7 linked regions of the Homo sapiens genome follow. The protein of the gene in region 1 purifies or fractionates together with the protein of each later gene. This does not show direct contact. Each region holds a gene or a part of one and is shown in the gene's direction. Other genes may lie near its edges.

What was found.
Region 2: the proteins of ZNG1B (region 1) and OPALIN purify together in Homo sapiens (co-immunoprecipitation; one large-scale study listed by IntAct). This does not show direct contact.
Region 3: the proteins of ZNG1B (region 1) and MORC4 purify together in Homo sapiens (affinity purification with mass spectrometry, with the first as the bait; one large-scale study listed by BioGRID). This does not show direct contact.
Region 4: the proteins of ZNG1B (region 1) and CACHD1 purify together in Homo sapiens (affinity purification with mass spectrometry; one large-scale study listed by BioGRID and IntAct). This does not show direct contact.
Region 5: the proteins of ZNG1B (region 1) and PEAK1 purify together in Homo sapiens (affinity purification with mass spectrometry; one large-scale study listed by BioGRID and IntAct). This does not show direct contact.
Region 6: the proteins of ZNG1B (region 1) and NEK4 purify together in Homo sapiens (affinity purification with mass spectrometry; 2 studies listed by BioGRID and IntAct, with this or other methods). This does not show direct contact.
Region 7: the proteins of ZNG1B (region 1) and RIPK4 purify together in Homo sapiens (affinity purification with mass spectrometry, with the first as the bait; one large-scale study listed by BioGRID). This does not show direct contact.

What each region holds. Positions count from the first base shown.
Region 1 is NC_000002.12:113,458,191-113,461,690, forward strand, and holds part of ZNG1B (zinc-regulated GTPase metalloprotein activator 1B), read left to right. Parts: intron 1-2,482; coding exon 2,483-2,529; intron 2,530-3,500. UniProt on the Homo sapiens protein: Zinc chaperone that directly transfers zinc cofactor to target metalloproteins, thereby activating them.
Region 2 is NC_000010.11:96,345,862-96,349,002, reverse strand, and holds part of OPALIN (opalin), read left to right. Parts: intron 1-657; coding exon 658-714; intron 715-2,885; coding exon 2,886-3,062; 3' UTR 3,063-3,141. UniProt on the Homo sapiens protein: Central nervous system-specific myelin protein that increase myelin genes expression during oligodendrocyte differentiation. Promotes oligodendrocyte terminal differentiation.
Region 3 is NC_000023.11:106,986,713-106,990,212, reverse strand, and holds part of MORC4 (MORC family CW-type zinc finger protein 4), read left to right. Parts: intron 1-3,500. UniProt on the Homo sapiens protein: Histone methylation reader which binds to non-methylated (H3K4me0), monomethylated (H3K4me1), dimethylated (H3K4me2) and trimethylated (H3K4me3) 'Lys-4' on histone H3. The order of binding preference is H3K4me3 > H3K4me2 > H3K4me1 > H3K4me0.
Region 4 is NC_000001.11:64,676,129-64,679,628, forward strand, and holds part of CACHD1 (VWFA and cache domain-containing protein 1 isoform 1 precursor), read left to right. Parts: intron 1-766; coding exon 767-883; intron 884-2,030; coding exon 2,031-2,182; intron 2,183-3,466; coding exon 3,467-3,500. UniProt on the Homo sapiens protein: May regulate voltage-dependent calcium channels.
Region 5 is NC_000015.10:77,109,105-77,112,604, reverse strand, and holds part of PEAK1 (inactive tyrosine-protein kinase PEAK1), read left to right. Parts: 3' UTR 1-3,500. UniProt on the Homo sapiens protein: Probable catalytically inactive kinase. Scaffolding protein that regulates the cytoskeleton to control cell spreading and migration by modulating focal adhesion dynamics. Acts as a scaffold for mediating EGFR signaling.
Region 6 is NC_000003.12:52,750,441-52,753,940, reverse strand, and holds part of NEK4 (serine/threonine-protein kinase Nek4), read left to right. Parts: intron 1-42; exon of another isoform or gene 43-415; intron 416-1,604; coding exon 1,605-2,009; intron 2,010-3,500. UniProt on the Homo sapiens protein: Protein kinase that seems to act exclusively upon threonine residues. Required for normal entry into proliferative arrest after a limited number of cell divisions, also called replicative senescence.
Region 7 is NC_000021.9:41,750,053-41,753,552, reverse strand, and holds part of RIPK4 (receptor-interacting serine/threonine-protein kinase 4), read left to right. Parts: intron 1-2,307; coding exon 2,308-2,456; intron 2,457-3,500.

The sequences.
Region 1 (3,500 bases):
TGACTTAATGACCAAATGGTATATAATGTATTATTGGAGAATGTTCTTTTGAATAGAAGACATTGATTTTGTACTTTTTGCAGAGTTTGACTTGGGAAGGTAGGAAGTCACATGAGGGAAGTGCAGGGCTGATGTCTAGAGAAAATAAATGTTAAGATGCACTTATTTTTTAAATGTTTGTATGGCTTTCCTATGGGCATAGAAGAGGACATTTATCTCTTCTGCTATAATGGTATATGATTACATATAATTTTAATACAGCTGTAAATATTGGCAGGCTCTCATTTGGGGTGATTTTCATTTATTTTTATATTTGATACTTTCTGACTGCCTGGAAGTAGTAAAACGTTAGTCTACCACTGTTAGCTTTGAGTGAAGAATTCTAATATTTTGGAGAGGTAAATGCATTTAAAACATTGCACATTACCTTGTGAAACTAACATTGTATTAGTTACATTTAGGCATGGAAATGCAAAAACAAATCTGTAATTCTTCTGTCATATCATTTTTATGCCTCACAAACTCATAGCCAAATAACCCCAATTTCATATGTTAAAAAAGCTTTCATAAGGTCAATAATATAATATCTTGAAAAATATTTCAGTTTAAAAAGAATTTTCAGTACTATAGGATCATTCAGAGGCAGATGCCTTGCCAAAAATATATCATTGTTAAGTAGATTTACTGCTTAATGGGAAGAGATTTGTTGCTGCATGTTAGATGGCATTTTTCATGTAACATCTTTTATGTATCCCCACAACAGGAGGTGTTAATTACAATTCATTCAACAAATATTTCTTGAGCCTGTGTGCCAGGCACCATTCCAAGGTCTGTTAGCAGCCTCATTCTCTAGAGGCAGAGTATATAACAATAGGACTTGTTGTAGCCTCAGGCCAAGATGAATTATGAAAAAAATATTAAACTTGGTCTTTTGGCATGGAATGATTTTTGATACAATACTTGTCAAGTTCTGTGACTTCCATAATTGCAGAGTGGGTCTGCAGTTGAATTGAACAAGATTTTGCCTGAAGTAGAAGTATCATTGCCATGATTTTATTTCAGTTTTGTTTTCCTCAAAATAGAATTTGCTGAACTTTTAGAAGGAAAAAATGTTTCTTCTATAGACCTAATCAAGCTTGTTAAATAAAATTATTACCTGCTTGCTCTGAGGTTCCAAACTATTCAGATACCCCTAATGATCATCTCCCCATGTATTATGAAACTGGTTTGGCTCTGATATATGATTATTGACATTTGTGTAGCATTGTACACAGACTGATTTTATGTGGCATAAAAGATTTCACAAAGACTTTAAAATTATGTCATTTTACTTGATGGGTGTGTGTTCAATTAAAAAAAAAAGTCCCTGTGATTGTATATAAAATATAGTATCCTGTGATGATGAGGGTGTTAGATTTAGTTTCTTCCTTTATAAATGAAAATAGCCATCTCCCATAATTATTATGAAAGCTAAATGAGAAAAATGTATATAATTTATAAAGTTAGATTCAAGGATTTAATTCATTTGTAAAGTTGGCTTCAAATAGAGAGTATTACTATAATCTAGTTGCCTCTAAACCTCAGTAGCCAGCTTTTTATTGTGACAGGGAACCTCTATTGAGGTTTGAGGTAATGAGGGTAAAAGTGTAATTTCCCAGAGAAGAAGCTTGTGATGTTGATGACGTTAGGGATGTAAACAGGATTATGAGGGGGAAAAAAAAAACAGACAACAAAGCTTGCCTCCAGAGAGATGAAAACTACCACTTGGGCTCTAAGTCAGTGTCAAAATATTTTTTGGAGTTAGCCTGACTCTGGAGAGGTCAGTAAAATAAACAGTTGCACTGAGAGGCCAGATTAGCAAGTATGGGTTTCTAAATGATAAACTGCTTTTAGGCTAGAATCAGGGCTGAATCAGCCTTCCCACCACTTATTTGTTTCTAGGGTGTTTGAAAGGCCTAGTACTGAGTTCACGTGGTGCATGATTGTGGGCTGGGGTGTAGGGAAGTATTTTAGATTCTAATATGGGGGTTTGGTGTGAAGGGAAGTATATTAGATTCTAAGAAACTATATTTCAGTGGTTATCCTTTTTTAAAAATAAGTAATAATGAATATTTAGAACCAGAACAGTTTTGTAAGAAGGAAAATACCTAAAATCTGAACTGTAATCTTCTATGTTTTTATGACGTTATGTGAATCAAAGGGGTTTTCCTTTTAAGTAAAAGAAAAGGTCAGGAGTATGAAATCCTAAGCCCTCTTCCTCCCCCTATAAAACCCCACAGGTTCACTTGTAGAAAAAAATTGCAAATGGGGAAGAAAAATGCTTTTAGCTAGAAAAGTTAGTTTTGGATTTGTGTATTCAGTAACAGAACATGTTGAAGTTTTTATTAGATGCAAGAAAATGTCTCTAAAGTAAAATCCTTTGTGTTGACATTAGATTTTTTATTGTATTATAGTAACTTTATTCAAACTTTTTTTTGTTTAGCATTTAGCAGAAGAGAAACCTGATGGCCTTATCAATGAAGCTACTAGGTATTCATATTTAAAGTATATATTGATTGCTGGCTAATTGTAAAGAGAAAAATCACTAAGATGAAAACCAAAAACAAACTAAGAAATTTTAAAACATAGTCAACGAAAATTTATTTTCTTTTTTTCCCTTAGTTGAATTATTGCTATCTATTTATAATGATCTGATAACTAAACTTTTACTTAAAGTCATTTTTGTCGTAGCATAAAGTGAATGCTGAACACAGGATTCTGTAATTTTGAGGAACTCGGGAAATATTAACATTTAAAAATATTTTCTTGTTATACAATTTCTTTGGGATTGAAGATTTTATATATATATATATATGTATAATAATAATAATTATTATTATTATTTTTTGAGACAGAATCTCACTCTGTCACCCAGGCTGAAGTGCAGGCTCACTGCAACCTCCGCCTCCCAGGTTCAAGCGATTCTCCTGCCTCAGCCTCCCAAGTAGCTGGGATTACAGGCACCCGCCACCATGCCCAGCTAATTTTTGCATTTTTTTTTAAATTTTTTTATTTTTATTTTTATTTTTTTTAGTAGAGATGGGGTTTCACCATGTTGGCCAGGCTGGTCTCGAGCTCCTGACCTCAGGTGATCCACCCGCCTCGGCCTCCCAAAGTGCTGGGATTACAGGCATGAATCCACTGTGCCTGGCTGAACTTAAGTATTTTTGTAACTTTTTTCCTTATGAAAATATGGTTATTATAGAAAATATAAATAAGCCAAATAGAAAATAGCCAGATTGGATTTGTGATGTACATACTGTTGAAACCTGCTCTTTCAGTGAACTAAAGTGAATTCAGTTTTGAGAATTTAGTTGTATTCTTTGAGATAAAGCATAAGACCCTGAATAATTGAGGAAAATTGAAAGAATTTCCAGTTTTACTATCCTGTTAATAGAAAATAGAGCTTCTGATTATTATCATCTACTTTGTTATCTAGCATTCAGTCAACTGGATTCTTT
Region 2 (3,141 bases), on another chromosome or scaffold:
CTTAACATTTAATATGTCTTGGTTAGTTCAACTCCAAAATAGGAGTCATAGAAACTACCCTCCCTATTTTAAGAGGTAGGGAAAGTTATAAGGATGAAATGAGATAATGGATGATGAACATTTTTACATGTAAAGATGTGTTGACAAGCTGTAAATTTTAAACACATCAAGAAGTATTGTGGTTAGTGGTGGTATTGTTTAAGTAATAGTTTCTCAACCTCCAGTGCACTTTAAAATTATTTAGGAAGCTCAAAATTTCCAATCACCAAAGCCAATTAAATCAGAATTTCTGGATGACAAAGCTGTGGCACTGATCTTGAAAAAACAAAAACAATTTTTTAATTATAATTTCAAACATATACTAAAGTAGAGAGGATAGTATAATGAACCCAATTATTAACCCATGGCCAATATTGTTTCATCTCTACTCTCACCCTGGATTATTTTTGATAACTCACAATGATATTTCTTGGCTTAGGTATGGGTTTGGTTTGGTTTGAGGGGTGATGTTATTAGATGCCTCTGTGCTTGTTTTGTTTGTTTTAATGTACACTCAGATTTAAAAAGCACTGATTTTAATCATAGTTACGGTCAAATGCTATAACCCTTCACTTCTTCTTCTTTCTTTCTTTTATTATTATATTTTTTCCAATTTAGGAAAGTGACAGACCATGTGAAATTTCAGAAATTGATGACAATCCCAAGATATCTGAGGTAAGAACTCTTGGTTATACTCTCTATATACCATTCACACAGTAAACAAGCTAAGTGTTTGAAAGCCTTTCACCAAAAGAAGCACAGTATGAGCACATGTAGAAAAGAGATGACCAAGAGGAAGCTCAAGCACAAAGGAGGTTCTCAGTGCATTTTTATTGGCTGAACAGAAATTCAAGCTCCCTTTAATATTAGACAATCAATTTAATATAATTTATTTTACTGACAAACTAAAATGGAAAACTCATGTGACCATCTCAATAGGGGAAGAAAGTTCAAAAAAACTTAACAGTGATATGAACTCTCAGCAAATTAAAAATAGAATGGGAACTTCCTTGACTTGAAAGATGTCTTTTTCAAAAAATTACAGCTAACATCATACCTAACAGTAAAATGTTGAAAGCATTCTCTTTAGATCAGAAATAAAACAAGGATCTTCACTAACACCACTTCTATTCAATATTATACTTTAGATCCTAGTCAATGAAGTAGGATTTTTAAAAATTAGAAAGTATAGGTCCGGTGCAGTGGCTCACGCCTGTAATCCCAGCATTTTGGGAGGCTGAGGCGGGTGAATCATCTGAGGTCAGGAGTTTGAGACCAGCCTGGCCAACATGGTGAAACCCTGTGTCTACTAAAAATACAAAAAATTAGCTGGGTGTGGTGGCGGTCGTCTGTAATCCCAGCTACTCGGGAGGCTGAGGGAAGAGAATCGCTTGAACCTGGTAGGTGGAGGTTGCAGTGAGCTGAGATCGCACCACTGCACTCCAGCCGGGTGACAAGAGCAAGACTCCATCTCAAAAAAAAAAATTAGAAAGTGTAACACTGAAAAGGAAGAAACAAAATTGTCATTATTTGCAGATGGTATGATTGTCGACATAGAAAAGCTAAATCTGGCTGGGTGCGGTGGCTCACGCCTGTAATCTCAGCACTTTGGGAGGCCAAGGCAGGTGGATCACCTGAGGTCAGGAGTTCTAGACCAGCCTGGCCAACATGGTGAACCCCATCTCTACTAAAAACACAAAAGTTAGCCAGGTGTGGTGGCAGGTGCCTGTAATCCCAGCTACTTCGTGGGGGGCTGAAGCAGGAGAATCACTTGAACCTGGGAGGCAGAGGTTGCAGTGAGCTGAGATCACACCATCACACTCCAGCCTGGGGGACAAGAGTGAGACTTCATCTTAAAAAAAGAAAAAAAAAAGAAAGAAAGGAAGAAAGAAAGAAAGAAAAGAAAAGCTAAATCTACAGAAAAATTACTTGAATTAACAAGAAATTTTAACAAGTTTACTGGATACAAAAATCAATATATAAAAGTAATTTATACTTTCAACATCAACAACAATTAGAAAAAGTGATTTTAAAAATTACCATTTGTGATGGTAATTGGTATTAAAATATGTAGAATGCTATGGAATAAATCTAACAAAAATATGTAATACCTTTATGGAAAATAATAAAACTTTGGTTAAAAAACCCATTAAATAATACCTAAATAATGGGGGTTGCATACTATGCTCCTGGATAGAAAGTGTTAATAACATAACGATGTCAAACAATGTTGATCTATATAACAGATGTAATTTCAATATAAATCCCAATCAATTTTTTTCATGGAACTTAATGAGGTTCTTCTAAAATCTATATGAAATAAAGTAGAAAAAGAGTTAAAAAGACACAACAAACAGGTAGAACAAACAGAAAACAAATAGCAAGATGGTAGATTTAAACCCAACCATATCAATGATCACATTAAATGTAAATGGTCTAGATACCCGAATTAACAGGAAGAGATTTCACATTGGCTATAAAAACAAGGTCCAATCATATGATGCCTACAAAACTCACTTTAAATATAAATACACAAATAGATTAACAGTTAAAAGACAAAAAATGAGAAACTTTGTTAACAATAAACAAAAGATAGTTGAGTGGCCTGAAAGCTCTCCCAAAGCAGTAAGATCAGGTAATTGTGGGTCTCTCCTCATTTGTTTTCTGTCTCTCCAGGACCATTGTCCCTCCTTGCCTGTTGTCTAGTGTCTTGAAAACTATTGCTTCAAATGTTGTGTCTGATTTTGGTTATTTCAGGTGGGAGGGTCAATGTGGTTGCTGTTAGTCCATCTTGTATGAAAGAATTCTCTGCTGTAGTTTTTAAAAAACCTATTTGTTTCCTTAAGAATCCTAGGAGATCACCCACACATGAGAAGAATACGATGGGAGCACAAGAGGCCCACATATATGTGAAGACTGTAGCAGGAAGCGAGGAACCTGTGCATGACCGTTACCGTCCTACTATAGAAATGGAAAGAAGGAGGGGATTGTGGTGGCTTGTGCCCAGACTGAGCCTGGAATGATGCAGCTCAGTCAAGGAGCAGCAGACCTGGCACTGGAACAGGGTTGAAAACCCAGGGTTTTGTACTTGGAGAGGAAAGA
Region 3 (3,500 bases), on another chromosome or scaffold:
CAAAGGATTCTATTTTTTTTTTTATTAGATGGAGTTTTGCTCTGTCGCCAGGCTGGAGTGCAGTGGCGCGATCTCGGCTCACTGCAACCTCCGCCTCCTGGGTTCAAGCAATTTTCCTGCCTCAGCCTCCCGAGTAGCTGGGACTACAGGTGTGCGCCACCATACCCAGCTAATTTTTGTAGTTTTAGTAGAGACGGGGTTTTACCATGTTGGCAGCCAGGATGGTCTCCATCCCTTGACCTTGTGATTCACCTGCCTCGGGCTCCCAAAATGCTGGGATTACAGGCATGAGCCACCACGCCTGGCCCGAAGGATTCTATGTTTTCTGGGTTTTTTTTTTTTTTTTGGATGGAGTTTCACTCTTGTTGCCCAGGCTGGAGTGCAATGGTGTGATCTTGGCTCACTGCAACCTCCGCCTCCCGGATTCAAGTGATTCTCCTACCTCAGCCTCCCGAGTAGCTGGGATTACAGGCATGCGCCACCATGCCTGGCTAATTTTGTATTTTTAGTAGAGACGGGGTTTCACCATGTTGGTCAGCTGGTCTTGAACTCCCTAACTGAAGTGATCCGCCTGCCTCGGCCTCCCAAAGTGCTGGGATTACAGGCATGAGCCACCGTGCCTGGTGCTGTTTTCTACTTGAAGGCATATTACTTTTGTATTTGGAAAAAATAATAGAAGTAATTATACAAATTTATTAAGCCTACAGAAGTTCTATTTGACCTCTAACATTTGTTGTTACACTGTCCACACTTTCCAACTCTTTATGCAACTCTATTTTCAGGCTGATAAAATAGTTGTGTAACTGTAGCAACAGTTTCTTCCATAAACATAGACTTTCATGAAAATCAAATTAAAAAGGAAAAACCTATTATTAAATTCCTTTAAGGTCCACAACTAATTATCTTTAGCTTCTGGGGCTAGTGTGTGGATCAGTTAGTCTGTATATTCAGCTGCCTTTTTCAGCAAGGTGGAAAACCTCTTTCAAAGTTCAAAGACTAAAAACAGCCACAGAACCACAGAAGGTATTTGCTACCTGTGCTCAGAAGTGCACTTCCTAGCAGGTGTATTCTTCTAAAACAATAGCTGGAGAATAACAGTCTGCTTAGCACTCTTTCATTCTTTTATATTACATATTAAATCACAAGTATACCTAGGAAATAGCAGTGCCTGCCTTTGTGCACCCATGGATTTTGCCAAGGTTTGTTTCATTGGTCAGAGTCTTTACTTATTTATTATTTTTCTTAACTTTTATTTTTGGTTTGGAGGTACACGTGAAGGTTTGTTACATAGGTAAACACGTGTCATGGCAGAGTCCCAATTTAAATTTACCTCTCTGGATTCTGGATTCTTGACATTTTAAGATACTCCAGAGCAAGCTGCTGTATTTTTGGATTCCACTAAAAGTGCTGGTATCCAAGCCACCTTGATGTGTAAACAGTGTTGTCTCTCACACGAGAGGATAGAGCAGGACTGACTTAGCAAATAGAAACCACCTAAACCAAGTTATCTCTGTGGAAAATTATTACTGAGCTATAGCAAACTATCAAATTCATTATTACAATTCTATTATTATGTGTGGTGAGGGCTTTTGTGTTAGGTAGTTATTTGATTGGTACCTGACATTGATTCTGCCAGTTTGCATTTAAATAGAATGCCGAACATGAGAACTTAGGTGGAATAAAAGAGCACACGGGAAGAGTTAAGTGAAACACAGTAACAACAACAAAAATCCAGAGTTTATAGCTCCTCTCTTCTCGTTATTCTTATCCTTTTCCATTCTGGTTCTGGCCTGGCACTACTACTTATCTTCTCAACCTTGTATCATAATTTGGTCTCCTCAAATTAACACAGTGAGGGTTTATACTTTCAAAGGGGAAAAGAGGTGATAGATGGTGGAAGAGGCTAAAAAATTAAGGGAGTTGTAATCTCCCTATTTTCACCACTTTCCCTTGATCACCTAATTGAAGCTTTTGTGGTATAAGAGAAAGTTGAAGTCCGGTTAACGATACAAATTCATTTGAAGTGATGTGTAAGATTACTATTTATGAAGAGCCCTGAGCTTTAGATGTGACCTTAGGTCTGAAGTAGGAGTAGGGGATAGCACATGACAACTATCAGAATGACTTCTAGAGTTAGTTTAAAATTAATGTTTGAATACTACTTTATACTTAATGTATTTTGCATACAGTATATAATTTAATCCTCATAACAAACCCATTTTTTTTAAAAGCCAATTCTTCCACAAGAAAAATGGGAATGCCTGAATCTTACTATTATAAGTCTGTATCCTGGAATACTAAGGCCCATAGGCAACACAAACTGAAGTTCTTTTTCTTTTTTTTTTTCCCAAAGGACTGCTGCCATGGAAATTACCTTTTTCTGTCACTAGATTTATTTGTAGGATACACACAGCTCCTATAAAGTATCTACTCTAGGAGGACATATGGTATTATTGTATAATGCTTTGAAACAGAAAATTAAAAGGTGGTTCCCTTTCTTAGTGAGTAAACACAAAACCGCAATCTTCAGGAAGTAGAAATCAGATACCTCCGCTCTCCATGCTCAAAAGAGTAAAATTGTTAAAGATCAGCCTGCTCAGTCATGGTCTGACCAGAGTATCTATTTTATTGATGTTGAGAAGCACCTAATCTGTAATATATGAAGTCCTTCCTTAGACTATAAACTCTGAAGGCAAGAATCATGTCTCTTATTAAAAATGGTCTCTAGTGCTTAGCCCAATGCTTGGCACATTGTAGGTGCTTAGTTTAAATATTTATTGAATGAATGATAGTGCACAACATTGTAAAATTAGTCAATCTGGAGAGAAACAATCCTTTTTAGTATGATTTTTTCTTTTATTGATACCTAATATTTTACATATTTATGGGGTACATGTGAGTACTTTATACATGCATACAATGTGTAATGATCAAGTGAGGGTGTTTGGGGTTTCCATCACCTTGATAATTTATATGTTGGTAACATTGGAACTCCTCTTTTCTAGCTACTTTGAAATATGTGATGTATTATTGCTAATTATAGTCACCCTGGTCTGCTATGGAACATTAGAACTTTTTTCTTCTATCTAACTATAAGTTTGTACTCATTTGCCAAACTCTATTCATTTCTCCTTCTCATCCTGAGAAACAATCCTTACAATTAGTTTTATTGATGGTGAGGGAAGATATATAATCATTTTATTTTTAATTTTTAAAGTTCTGTTATTTTGGTGTGTACCTGAATGGAAAATACAAGGAAGGGAAAGGTTCTGGCTTCCAGATTAAGCTGATCAAAAGGGGCTACAGAGATTGTTGAGGCGCCTAAGTGAAAGGTCCTTAATGGAGCAAGAGAGACTTTATACTGCAACTGTTTGCTGATATTCAGAGGCAGAACTACCTATTTTTATCCTTTGGCCACATTCCAATGAACTGTCCCAGCAGATGGAACAGAGACTAAGAATTGGAAGGGTTATCCTTTGAGTGGAGAGTTGAAATTGTCA
Region 4 (3,500 bases), on another chromosome or scaffold:
GTGAGCCAGAATTCAAGCTCCGTAGTGCCATAAAATGATGCCTGTTTCAAGGTTTAAATTTAACTGCTGTAAAAGTATTAAGAGTGTATGTGCTACATACAAAAAAATGTGAGAATGTTTCAAGCATTTACTAAGTGTCTACCATGTGTTGAGTACGTTATGCACATTAAGTCACTTAGTGTTCTAATTAACCCTGTGATAAATATGCAAGTGTTTTTTACACACGTATGATGTGTTCTACAGCATTATTTATATCAGTGACAGATTTTAACACCAGGAAAATAAATTGTAATAAACCCCTTCTCTAGAAATTAAGAGTGTCATGTGTGTTTGTATTGTGTGTGTATAATTGTTTGTTGAGACATGGTCTCACTCTGTTGCTCAGGATGGAGTGCAGTGGCGCGATCATGGCTCACTGCAACCTCTACCTCCAAAGCTCAAGCAATCCTCCCACCTTTCTACCTCCCTCGTAGCTGGGACTGCAGGCATGTGATTCCCAAGCCTGTCTAAATTTTGTTGCTGTAGTAGTACTTTTCGTAGAGATGAGGTTTCATCATGTTGCCTAGGTTATTTGTATTACTTCTACTGTATATAAAGATAAGTAAATTGAAGCTCAGAGTTGTTAAGTGATTGATACAAGGTTACACACTAAGTGGCAAAGCCAGGATTCAAACCCAAATCTGTCTGACTGCTGTTAAGGACCAGGAGCATGAGTTTGGAATGTGGGCGGTGGTCGTCTTAACCTCCAGACTTACCTCCTGCACAGAAACCCCAGCTGCGAGGTCCACCAGGAGCCGGTGACATACACAGCTATTGACCCTGGCCTGCAAGATGCTCTTCACCAGTGTGTCAACAGCAGGTGCAGTCAGAGGCTGGAAAGTGGGTAAGCAGAATCTAGTAAAGAATTGAGGTTTTCCAGCTAATATTTATTATTCCTACTCTTCGTGTTTTAAAAAGGTATGTCAGTTTTTCAGATCTGAAACTGATTTCCATAAGCCTTTACCCACCAGATTAAATGTTGTCTCGTTCCCACTTATTACCCGTATTTAGCGTGTGTACCATATGTTAGTAGCCTCATCTGTGAATGGGAGTTTTTCTTGAAATAAAAGACTTGTGAGGGGCCATGGCATGAAGCAGCAGGGCAAGGGAGGAGGAACCCCTGAGGTCCAGAAGCAGAACCCAGTGGTCAAGGCTCTAGGTGTGATATTTTGAAGCTCATTTATTTTCCTTTCTTAGGAAACACATCTGCTTCATGATAGTTTTGAGAACTAAAAACTACATGTTCCCCGCTCTCTCCCCACTCCTCAGGTGGGATTAGGAGTTTGGGACTAGACATTATGGAAATAGTGGCTGTGGTAGACTAAGTAAAGGGGAGTTGGTTTTTAGCTTATTGTAGCTGTAGCTTGCCATTTTATTAAACAGTGTTTAGAGGGATAGCTTACTCTGCTTTGCGTGTGTATTTTAGCAAAGGAATTGTGGCATCAAACTGATTAATTTGGGATGTTATACAGTAGCCCCAAGTCAATTAAGTTTGGGAAATGCTGACACTGCATATATTCTCTTGAGACAGTCACAATGCATGTAATACACTAAAGGCTCTGAGAAATTGGCAGTGAGGAAACCTGTGGTGACTGGCCAAGTATTTCCAAACTTATTGGACTTTTTTTTTTATTTTTTTAAATGACCCCACACTTGGGGGATGTTAAGCCAGAGTCTAACAAACATTGGGGTCATTTCTGTTTGGTCTTGTAAGATGATTTTGAATAGCCCCATGATGTGTGGATGTCATTATTTAATTCACAGAGAGCAGTTTTATTTCTCTCCTTTCCAAGTTGTTAAGAGGCATAAAACAGTTATTTCCCTGGCAGTCTATTGCTATTCTCATTTTATAAGGAAAGGAAACTAAAGCTCAAGAAATTCACAGCACTAGTAAGTAATGGAGATCCTGAGAACTGTCTGATGCCCACACTTAAGTGCTGTCCCCTGCCCCACACTGCTTTATAGAAGACTAAGTATTGTTTTTCTGGCAGGGACTGTTTTGGGGTGCTGGATTGTGAATGGTGCATGGTGGACAGTGATGGAAAGACTCACCTGGACAAACCCTACTGTGCCCCCCAGAAAGAATGCTTCGGGGGGATTGTGGGAGCCAAAAGTCCCTACGTTGATGACATGGGAGCAATAGGTATGTTTGTTAGATGCCCCAACAATTTGATTCTTGAATATACAATTTCCTGCCTATATGCTAGGACATCTTAAAATAATCCTCTTCCCAACTTCCCTGATTCCTTTGCTGGTAGTCTTTAGTTACAAAACCAAGGCAGATAATTACCTTCAGAACTGGCTAAATATTCTATGCAGAGAGAGTGAGTGGCCATCTGTGCTGCCAAATTTTACAAGCCTGGAATTCATTCCCATAAAGCTTGTTCTGATAAATATAAGGACTGGTTTCTGCATGGCCAAACTCTGGAGTCTGTTTGGATATGCACGCCAGCTGTCAGAAGCACAGGGCCGTGTACGGAGTGACCACTGTATGTCTAGTGCCTGCTAAAACCTTCACTCACAACTTTTGCAAGGTAGAAGTCTTATAGCTACAAATCAGTATTTGGGGCCTTGGAGTCAACAGAAGCCAGAGCTACCCAGTGCATCTGGGACAGCTTAGGATGAAGCACAAGGACACCACAGGGTGGACAGCCCCTGGGATCAGTCTCCAAGACCTCAAAAATACTGCCAAGATTAGATTGCTTACCTGAGATTTTTTTTTTCAGTCTTTCCAGAATTAGCACCAAGGCCTAATTCTTAGATGGCAGTAGAGTCAAATATTTAAATCCTTAGTTAATACCTTGATTTTTAACATCACTTACATCAGCCTGTCTAGAAGAAAAGCTCATATGTGGGGAAGGATTTTGAGCTTGTATGTTACTGCTGAACTAGGTGAGGGTACATATGTGAAAGTGACTTGGCTCTGAGAAATCACTTTCTATGCTCACCTGCAGTTTCCTATCTGGAAAGCACAAATGGCCTTTTAAAGGAAACCCATAAGCTTCGAAACTTGATCCGGTTAGCGCATATTTATTGGACCTGGTGCCTTTTATTTCAGTGGTTACTCTGTACTAGGTGACTTTTCCTCTCTTCCAAGAGTAACTCATACCCCAGGGAGCTAGGACTCTGTTGGTGTTGGATGCTGCCTGTGTAAGCAATTCTTCTGGTCTGCTCACTCTTCCCAGCAGTCCTTGCCATTTGTGCTCCTGCTCTGCCTAGCAACCAACACTGGAGAACCAGGAATTAAATGTAGCCTCCGCTCCCACGTTCCCATGCGTCATGTTTGAGGAACTCAAAGCCTAACTAAGCATCTGTTTATCTTCCGCCAACCCCCTTCCCACTGTATTCCCTCCCATCTCACCATCCTTACTTTCTTCCCCACTTGGGAAATCTTAACAAGAAACATCTTCTTGCTCTTTCACTGAAGGTGATGAGGTGATCACATTAAACATGATTAAAAG
Region 5 (3,500 bases), on another chromosome or scaffold:
CTTTGACCTTGAAATCCCAAGAGTCACTCGAACAATGTGTGTGTACACTTGTGTGCCCATGTGTGCGTGCACACGCATGCTGGAAGTAGAGGCCAGGCCTCTAGAAAAGCAACCTGTGGCAGGGTTGACAGACATGTTCTCTGTGCCTAGTGAGTGAGTGAGCCCTGAGGCCCCTCATCTACCAGTGCAGAGTTTCCTTAAAGCCAAGACTGACTGTGCAGTATTACTTACATAGCACATTAGTGGCCTTGGAAATTTCTAAACTTTTAACATTTTTAACAGCTTTTCATGTGATTCATGTATAACAAAGAGGATCAGGAAAGGAAAATAATGTATTTTATTGTGCTCTTATTACTTTTTTAAGTGATTGTAATATGTGAGGCTCTATTTGGAGAATGTCCCTTATCCCCTGGCCAGCAATATAGGACTCACAGGAAAGAAGGCTGGTTAGCCCACAAAGAGTCTTGCCTCCTCTAGCCAGAGTGCAGGGCTCTGCTCCTAGGAATGGCCATGGAGTGGGCATGCTGCTGCAGGCCAGCAGTCTGCTCTTGGTGTCCTGTGGCATGGCCGCGCCTTGCCTTGAAGGTTGGTGTTTGGTTCATCTTAGCATAGAACATGTGCACATAACTCCTTGCCTGATTATGCACTGAAGGGCAGCACACAGACCACTGACCATGTCAGCCAGCACATTCCCTTAACCTCCCCCACCTCCCATCTTGCAATGTCTTGCATATTGAGATATACCTTCTCAATGTCATGTTCGTGGTGCCTTGCCCATGTAAATTTCAATGTTGACTATTTAATGAGGTTACATATTTAATGCTGAATGTTTCCTGGTCCCTCTATTTGTTATGTCTCTACTTATCTTTTTTTTTCTTTCTCTTTTTCTGTTATGATTTGGATCCAGTCTTCACTTTAACTCTATGGTATAATAAGCATGGACACCTCCACTACCATTATCTTACAGCACTGGTAAACCAAGCACCTCTTCATATCAGATGTTTTTAGTACTGTTTTTATATTCAGATTTGTTAAGGGCAAAAGATGAATGCAAACTAGCCAGAGAAAAGCCTCAGGCTTCCCAGAGACAGGTGGCTAGATTAATTTTTCTCTGGGTGATGGCCAAAGAATGTGAGATAGAGAGGGAAGGGGGTGTTACAGGTTAGAGCAGAATAGAGAAAGAAACTATATTTCTAGGCAAAAAGTACTACATGAGTTGGTCTTCAGAATATTTTTCCAAAAAAATGAAATTCAGTCAGTTTAACATTATCACAAATATTTTTCATTTTAATTGTGGTAGGACCTTTGAATTTGTTCATCAACTGGAAAGAAATCCTACCCTCTGTAGACACATACACACACATTTATATATCTATGTGTTTGAATTGTGACTAGTATAGCACTTTACATTTTCTCAAGTAACAGGAAGTTATTGCCTTCAATATTGATTGGAAATTGTTTTCTATTGAAGTCTATACTGTAGAGTTTTCCATTTATATTGAGAGTTTGAACAATTAAGCTCCTATTGGAACTTTTCCTTAAGCCACATGAGCATGAACAATCTCTGTGACACTTGGGTGCTAGAGAAACACAACAGTGGCTAAAGTAGCCAAGAGCAAGACTGAATGTATAGCAGAGTGCCTTGTTAGAGTGGTAACCTAGTCTTGGAAGCAATTCAGTGGATGTTTCATAAAGAGGACTAGAACTTCAAGAAGCCTCCTGTGCTGGCTGAGGTGAGCCCTTTTGGTATATGTACACTACTGGGTTGCCTAGAAGCCAATTCATGAAGAATAACAGCAGGATGAGAAAAAGAGTCACTGTAACCTGTGGAACAACAACGTAAGAATCACCAACCCCTAGGCTGAGCTAGAACTGGAAGCCAGGAATATGGCAATGAGTTTCAAGATTTGCCCTCAGAAGATGAACTGGGTGAGGTATGGGTTGAGGTGAGGGCACAAGCACTCATCCTACCTACCCTGCTGCTGTTGAGGAGCTAGAAGTAAAACATATTGGTTAGGATTTTAACAGTTGGAGTAGCCTCCCATTATCAGATTAAGTGGGGGTCACTTTTGCTTCCAAACTCAGAATAAGTTTGTAAACATGGGAAAGTCTAAGCCAAGAGATCTAAAGCTCTAGAAATATTAATGACATTTCTGGGAGTAAAACTACTAAAAATTATATCTTAAAAGTTTCTAGTAGTATGAAGTTCCCAGGCCAGGCGCAGTGGCTCACGCCTGTAATCCCAACACTTTAGGAGGGCGAGGTGGGCAGATCACCTGAGGTCAGGAGTTTGAGACCAGCCTGGCCAACATGGTGAAACTCCATCTCTACTAAAAATACAAAAATTAGCCGGGCATGATGGCAGGCACCTGTAATCTAAGCTACTCGGGAGGCTGAGGCAAGAGAATCTCTTGAACCCAGGAGGCAAAGGTTGCAGTGAGCCAAGATCACGCCATCGCACTCCAGCCTGGGAGATTGAGCAACTTCGTCTCAAAAAAAAGTTTCCAGGAAAGATCTTTGGGTCCTACTAAGCGTCTCAATTTTGAGTTATGAATACTTTGGTTCAGGGAAGTAACCTGACATTTGGTTTTGCTGGAATTAGGGTTTTCGCTAGATTTGACTGCAATTAGGATTTCTTCTAGATTTTACCAGCAGTGATCTGAAAAAGTACAGGCTAGTCACAGAAATAGAGATGGATTTAGGATACTACACTATATTTCAAATGATTCTAGATGTGTAAATATAGTATGAACATTCTTGGAGAGGGGTGAGACAAACTGGACTTGCTGGGCCAACCCTGGCATGTTTTTCATTCTCCTCACTAGTTGACAAGGATTGAAAATTCCGCTCCAGCCTAATGAGTGAACAGGATGGCTGCCCACAAAACCAAGTTATTAGCTTTATGTCATCGAAGCTCATATTCTCAAAGGCCCAAAGTGCTGTGCCGAGACAAATCCAAGTGCTGCTCTTGCTGAAGTGCGCACTGAAGTCCAGCTGTCCGTGCTTACAGCAGTGCCAAAAGTGGGGATTCCATGGACCAAAAACGGTGCCATAAGGGAAGCCAGAAGAGTTGCAGTGCAAGATCCTGGGAGAGATTATACCAAAGAAATCAAGCCTTTTTATCCTGATGCTTCTAAGATGATGAGGGTGAGCTGTGACAGATGCTGTGGGAGGGGAGTTCACATACATTCCATGTCAAGGCATTTAGCTGATAAATCCATCCTCAGAAAAGCACCTTTTTAAAAAGAAGTCCATTTTGTATATTAGAAGATGATGATGATGATGAAGATGAAGAAAGCCCTGGCAGATACAAAGTTCCTCAGTATTTAAGGAGAAGGATCTCTTCCATGTCCCCTTGACATGACTGTGGCTATTGCCCAAACCTCAGCTTGAGAACATCATATAATACTGAGAGCGGAAGATTTTTTTAAAGAGATATGGTAGTTTAAATAGGTTTGTTTAAAGAACTCTTGGGAAATTTCTTAACAAATTGTAATTGT
Region 6 (3,500 bases), on another chromosome or scaffold:
GCCTCGGACTCTCAAAGTGCTGGGATTATAGGTGTGAGCCACCGCGCCTGGCCTAAATATGCCATCTTGATAAAGTCTGTGCCCTATGAATATTAGTCCAAACCACTTTAATACAGAGGGATAAGATGGCTGCACATAGACACCTAATAACGTCTGCTCCGCAACCAAGGTAAATTCAGCAAGAAGAGAGTATTTCAGGTGGACGAGTCTGTAGGAAGCATGCATGCCATTTGTTGACTGTGCTGCTGGGACAGGCTCCGTAGGCTTAGTTATGGGCAAAGCATTTTTGGGAATAGAAGGCAGCTGTTTCTTTGGCATAGTTCATCAAAGACTGGTTTTTGCATCCCCTGCCAATGTTTTCAGCTTCAGATCGTTTCCATGTAGAGCTTGTAGACATGCTCCAGAAAGAGTACATAATGTGTACTCCAAACAAAGAAATTCAGTAGTATGTCATCAGACTCTTCCGTCCTCAGCATTCAATTTACCAGCCTTCCGGGCATTGTGCCTCACCTCTGTGCCTTCAATGTAGAGTTCCCAGCTGCCTATCACCTTTGTGGCCCAGCGGCATCTCTGGCCACAGTGCCAGTCCTGCCCCTGCTTGCTCCCTGCCCTGTCCTGGCTTACTTCTTTTCTTTTCTGAGACAGGATCTCAACTGTGTCAACCAGGCTGGAGTGCAGTGGTGTGATCACGGCTCACTGCAGCCTTGACCTCCCGGCTCAAGCAATCCTCCCACTCAGGCTTCCAAGTAGCTGGGACTACAGGCACTTGCCACCATGCCCAGCTAATTTTTTGGTATTTTTTATAGAAATGGGGTTTCGCCATGTTGCCTAGGCTGGTCTCAAACTCCTGAGCTCAAGTGCTGGGATGATAGGTGTGAGCCACCACACTTGGCCTGGCTTATTTTACTTAGCATGTTTTCAGGGTTCATTCGTGTTTTAGCATGTATCAGAACTTCATTCCTTTTTATAGATTAGAAATATTCCATTGTGTGTGTGTGTGTGTGTGTATATATATATATATATTTTTTTTTTTTTTTTTTGAGGCAGGGTTTCACTCCTGTTGCCCAGGCTGGAGTGCAGTGGCGGGCTCTCGGCTCACTACAACCTCCGCCTCCTAGGCTCAAGCAATCCTCCCGCATCAGCCTCCCAGGTAACTGGGACTACAGACATGCACCACCACACCTGGCTAATTTTTGTATTTTTAGTAGAGATGGGATTTCACCATGTTGCCCAGGCTGGTCTCAAGCTCCTGGCCTCAAGTGGTTCACTTGCTTTGGCCTCCCAAACTGCTGGGATTACAGGTGTGAGCCACCGTGCCTGGCAGTATTTACCACATTTTGTTTATCCCTTCATCTGCTGATGGACTTTTGGGTTGTTTCCGCCTTTTGACTATTTTAAATAAAGCTGCTGTAAACATTGGTGTACAAATACTTAACTTAAATCCCTGCTTTCAGTTCCTTGGATTACATACTTAGGAGTGGAATTGCTGAGTCATATGTTAATTCTATGTTTAACTTTTTGAGGAACCTCTTGTTGCATTTTGAGTTGATTTTGTATAAGATATGAGGAGTGCTATAATAATTTCCAAACATCTTTTCATTCAGGGTGAAGGCAAATGTTTGTCCCAGGAGAAACCCAGGGCCTCTGGTCTCTTGAAGTCACCTGCCAGTCTGAAAGCCCATACCTGCAAACAGGACTTGAGCAATACCACAGAACTAGCCACAATCAGTAGCGTAAATATTGACATCTTACCTGCAAAAGGGAGGGATTCAGTGAGTGATGGCTTTGTTCAGGAGAATCAGCCAAGATATTTGGATGCCTCTAATGAGTTAGGAGGTATATGCAGTATTTCTCAAGTGGAAGAGGAGATGCTGCAGGACAACACTAAATCCAGTGCCCAGCCTGAAAACCTGATTCCCATGTGGTCCTCTGACATTGTCACTGGGGAAAAGAATGAACCAGTGAAGCCTCTGCAGCCCCTAATCAAAGAACAAAAGCCAAAGGACCAGGTGAGTGATATGCACACATGAGATACTGGTTTTGGAGAGAAGACTGAAAGTGCAGTTACAAATATGTGGGTTCTGTTGTCATTTTAGGAAAATCAGTAATTCTATGTATCAGTTTAAACATAGAAGAATATTTGCATCAAACCAAAAAGAAACCCAGTACCCTATAACAGTCACTCACCATTCCCTCTTGCCCACAACTCGTGGCAACATTTGTCTCTATGGATTTGCCTATTCTGAGGATTTCATATAAATGGAATCATACAATTTATGGCTTTGTGTGTTTGGCTTCTTTTTTTCTCTTTTTTTTTTTGAGACAGAGTTTCACTCTTGTTTCCCAGGCTGGATTGCAATGGCGCGATCTCGGCTCACTGCAACCTCTGCCTCCTGGGTTCAAGCAGTTCTTATGCCTCAGCCTCCTGAGTAGCTGGGATTACAGGCATGCGCCACCACGCCCAGCTAATTTTTTTTTTTTTTTTGAGACAGAGTCCCACTCTGTCGCCCAGGCTGGAGTGCAGTGGCGTGATCTCGGCTCACTGCAACCTCCGCCTCCCGGGTTCACACCATTTTCCTGCGTCAGCCTCCCGAGTAGCTGGGACTACAAGCACCCACCACCACACCTGGCTAATTTTTTTGTATTTTTAGTAGAGACGAGGTTTCACCGTGTTAGTCAGGATGGTCTCGATCTCCTGACCTCGTGATCTGCCCATCTTGGCCTCCCAAAGTGCTGGGATTACAGGCATGAGCCACCGCACTCGGCCGATGCCCGGCTACTTTTGTGTTTTTAGTACAGACGGGGTTTCTTCATGTTGGTCAGGCTGGTCTCGAACTCCCGACCTCAGGTGATCAGCCTGCTTTGGCCTCCCAAAGTGCTGAGATTACAGACATAAGCCACTGGGCCTGGCCTGCCTTCTTTTACTTAACCTGATGTTTTCAAGGTTTATCTATGATGTAGGATGTACCAACATTTTATTCCTTTTTTAAAAAAATTTCATTTTTTAATTTTTTGAGACAGGGTCTCTGCTGCTCAGGCTAGCGTGCAGTGGTGCAAACACAGCTCACTGCAGCCTTGACTTCCTGGGCTTAAGTGATCCTCCTGCCTCAGCCTCCTGAGTAGCTGGGACCACAGACATGCCCTGCTAATTTTTTTATTTCTATTTCTTGTAGAGAGATGGGGCCTTGCCATGGCCATGTTGCCCAGGCTGGTCTCAAACTCCTGGGCTCGACAGTCCTCCCAACTTGGCCTCCCAGCGTACTGGGATTATAGGCATGAGTCACTGGACCCTGCCTCATTCCTTTTTATTGCCAAATAATATACTGTATTTGTATTTGTGTGCCTGTGTGTGTGTGCATGTGTGTGTATACACACACATATATGTATTTTTTGTTTGTTTGAGTCTCACTCTGTCACCCAGGCTAGAGTACAGTGGCACGATCTCAGCTCACTATAACCTCTGCCTCCTGGGTTCAATGATTCTCGTGCCTCCGTCTCCC
Region 7 (3,500 bases), on another chromosome or scaffold:
GAGGAAAGGCGGAGGGGAAATGCAGCCGGCCAGGAGTCCGAGACATGGAGGGAGGAGAACATAGAGGGTCAGTGACCCTCCTAGAATTCTCAATTCCGAGCTTGCATTTTGTTGCCAGAGGTTTTACAGAGAATTTCTGCTCGTTTTCTTTTCACCAAGTATAGTTTGGAGTGGCTGGCTCTATCTGACAAAGACAGGAGGAGAAAAGGCTGCAGGCCTGGGGAAGCACCAGGCTGAGATCTCTGCACCCCTGTCGTTTTTCTTTTCTTTTCTTTTCTTTCTTAATGATCTCAGATGTCATTTAATTTTCACAACAAAGCTACAGGATGGGTACTGCTATTGCCTCCTTTTATGAAAAAAGGAAACAGGCACAGAGAGGCTAATAGTCCAGGGCCACGGAGCTACTAACTTGTACAGGCAAGATTAGAACAGTGAGTCTGATCCTTAACTAACCGTGGGAGGGAGATATTTTTTTCCTACATTCAACCATACAGGGGGAGGAGGAATTGCCTAGAAAGTATGTGATGCTTTCTTTATTTTTATTATTATTTTTTATTTTACTTTTAGTTCCGGGATACATGTGCAGAATGTGCCAGTTTGTTACATAGGTTTATATGTGCCATGGTGGTTTGCTGCACCCATCCACCATCTAGGTTATCACCTAGGTTTTAAGACCCGCATGCATTAGGTGTTTGTCCTAATGCTCTCCCTTCCCTCTTCCCCTACGCACCGACAGGGCCCGGCGTGTGATGTTCCCCTCCCTCTGTCCATGTGTTCTCATTGTTCAGCCCATTTCTGAATTTGAAGGCTTTCAAGCCACTGATGACTGTTGAACTGAAACTTCCTGTGCTCTGGAGCTATTTGGAGAGTTAGGACCCGTTGTTGTGTCCCAGCGTCCAGCAGCCGCCGGGGTTTGCAGGGTCGGGTGATGGCGTTCCTCTGGGGAGCTGGCGCTTTCCCTGGAGTGCAGAGTGTGGCTCTCAAGGGCGGTGCAGGCCTGAAGGCCCTGGGAGAAATGGAAGTGGGAGGACATGAGAGCCGCTGGAGTCGAGGCCTTGTCCTGGTGCTCCTGGCTGCAGAGAAGGAGGGCCGGTCCCTGCTCGCAGGCCTTCCCCCCTACCTCCCTGCAGATGTGCTCAGGATCCCTGGAAGCCCGAGTCACAGGTCATAAATTCTCCCAGCTGTTTGGTGCTGATGACAGCAGCCCTATTGGCTCACCACATGGGCATGGCCAGCCCAGAATTAAGGCCTGACTCAGCCTCATTTCCTGTCACTCCATGGGTGTGTTTGAGAGGAGCTCAAGAGTTAATGAAAAGGGTTTTTAAAAAAATCCATATGCCTTGAAGGAAAGTTGAGAGCAGCACTCCCCCTGGATCAAGAGTCCCATTAATGCTGATGACTTGTGTCTTCATCCCACATACGGTTTTCAGCAGCTTCAAAGGGGACTGAGTTACACTGGAGAGGGTAGGACACTGGCAGGAAAGGGGATGCCCCCGAGAGAGGTCAGACCGGGGGTCTGTGAAGTCTCCCCAGTGAGCTCCAAGGTCACCTTTGCCCGAAGGAGACCTGAGACCTGCCTCCCCTGAATGCGGACGTTGAGGGCATTCCTGGAGGAGCTGGGTGGCCGGTGCTCCTTGGGGCCCGGGCGCTGCCAGCAGAGGTGTTTATCAGACCTTCACTCGAACACATGTGTTTGAAGCAGCCAGCCAGTGTCTGCTGATCACAAAACACTCCAGATGGACGGGGCTCTGAGGCGTGTGTTTTGTTTGCTTTAAAGTTTAAAGGGCTTCTGAAGGTGTGTTTCTGTGTTTCCCTTTAAAGGACTTGCAGCCACTTGCCCGCCAGCCTCCCCAGCTGGCAGGTTGCATAACCTGCTCCCCGACTTCTCTAGGAGCAGACCTGGTCTTCACATGTGTCTCTCTTTACCTGAACCCTCGAAGGCTTGTTTTTTTCCCTTTATGCCGGCTCAGCCGGCTCTCAACCACCATGGCAAACATGATGCTTTACAGAAGGTGGATTCTAATTCTTCTGCAGTTCTGTCCCGGATAACTCCTTCCTTACAGTACGATTCTTTCACCTGCCCGTCAAATGTGCTGCTCCTAATGCCTCCAGGCTTGCTTCTGCCCCAGAATCTGTCTCCCTCCCTGCCTGGGGCAGGGCTACCTGGAGAGGCACAGACACGGCTCTTAGGGGCTCCTGGAAAGCTCTCACCCACCCTCTGAGATTGCAGAAGGGAGCTTTTGATAAAGCATCATAAAATATCACTGTTGCAGGCTAATGAGCCCCGCTCTGATGGCTGTGTTGCAGATTTCTGATTTTGGTCTGGCCAAGTGCAACGGGCTGTCCCACTCGCATGACCTCAGCATGGATGGCCTGTTTGGCACAATCGCCTACCTCCCTCCAGAGCGCATCAGGGAGAAGAGCCGGCTCTTCGACACCAAGCACGATGTATACAGGTGTGTGACATGCCGCCCCCCATCCCCTGTGGGTGCCAGGGGCTCTCAACCTCAATGCTTCATGCCCTGAGCTGCAGCTTTCAGAAAGGCCTCTTGCTGCCAGTCAGAAATGGGGCTCGGGCCAGGCGCGGTGACTCACGCCTGTAATCCCAGCACTGCGGGAGGCCGAGGCAGGAGGATTACTTGAGCCCAGGAGTTTGAGACCAGCCTGGGCAACATGGTGAAACCTCATCTCTACAAAAAATACAAAAATTAGCCCAGCTTGGTGGCGTGCACCTGTAGTCCCAGCTACTCGGGACTGAGGTTGGGGGATTGCTTGAGCCCGGGAGGTGGAGATTGCAGTAAGTCATGATTGCACCACTGCATTCCAGCCTGGGCAACAGAGCGCGACCCTGTCTAAAAAACAAACAAACAGAAAGGGGGCTAAGTCCACATAGAAGGGGTGGGTGCTTGTAGAGTTCAGGGATTTCTTTGCTGTGAGTGTTGCTAGCCAAGGAGGAAGGGTGTTCCCAGGTCCACATTTGGGCCAGGCTGACAGCCCTGCCCTGTCAGAGCCTTGGTGATTTCATGACCCGTGGGCTTTATGGCTTGTCTGTTGGAAGAACCTGCTGCTTTCAGTGGTCTGTACGCATGTGTGTTTGTACTTTCCGAAATTCACTCTGATTTTGTGAGGCGAGCAGCTCATCTTCTTCATGGCACTTAACCTTTGTTGGTCAGAGATCAATCCCCAAGTCACCTAGTCCCTTCCTTTTTCAAATTGTAAAGGTCTTAATCACACAGACTTCTTGGAGAAGAAAAGTGGGTGGGAGCGTGTGAGCAGGCACTAAGCCTCCCATTGTGGCTGTTATCCAGCAGCACTGTGACTCGGACCCCGCATGTGAGCTCTGCCTTTTGGTCACTGCCGCCGCCAGCAGCCCAGGCTGACTGGTTTGACAGTGGCCATTGTGCATGTGCTTAGCTGGGGCTTTAAGCTGAGAGTTGCCTGGAAGTGTCACTTTGGAGACTAGTCACAGCTTGTAGAGTTTGGGGAGATTGAGATCCTCT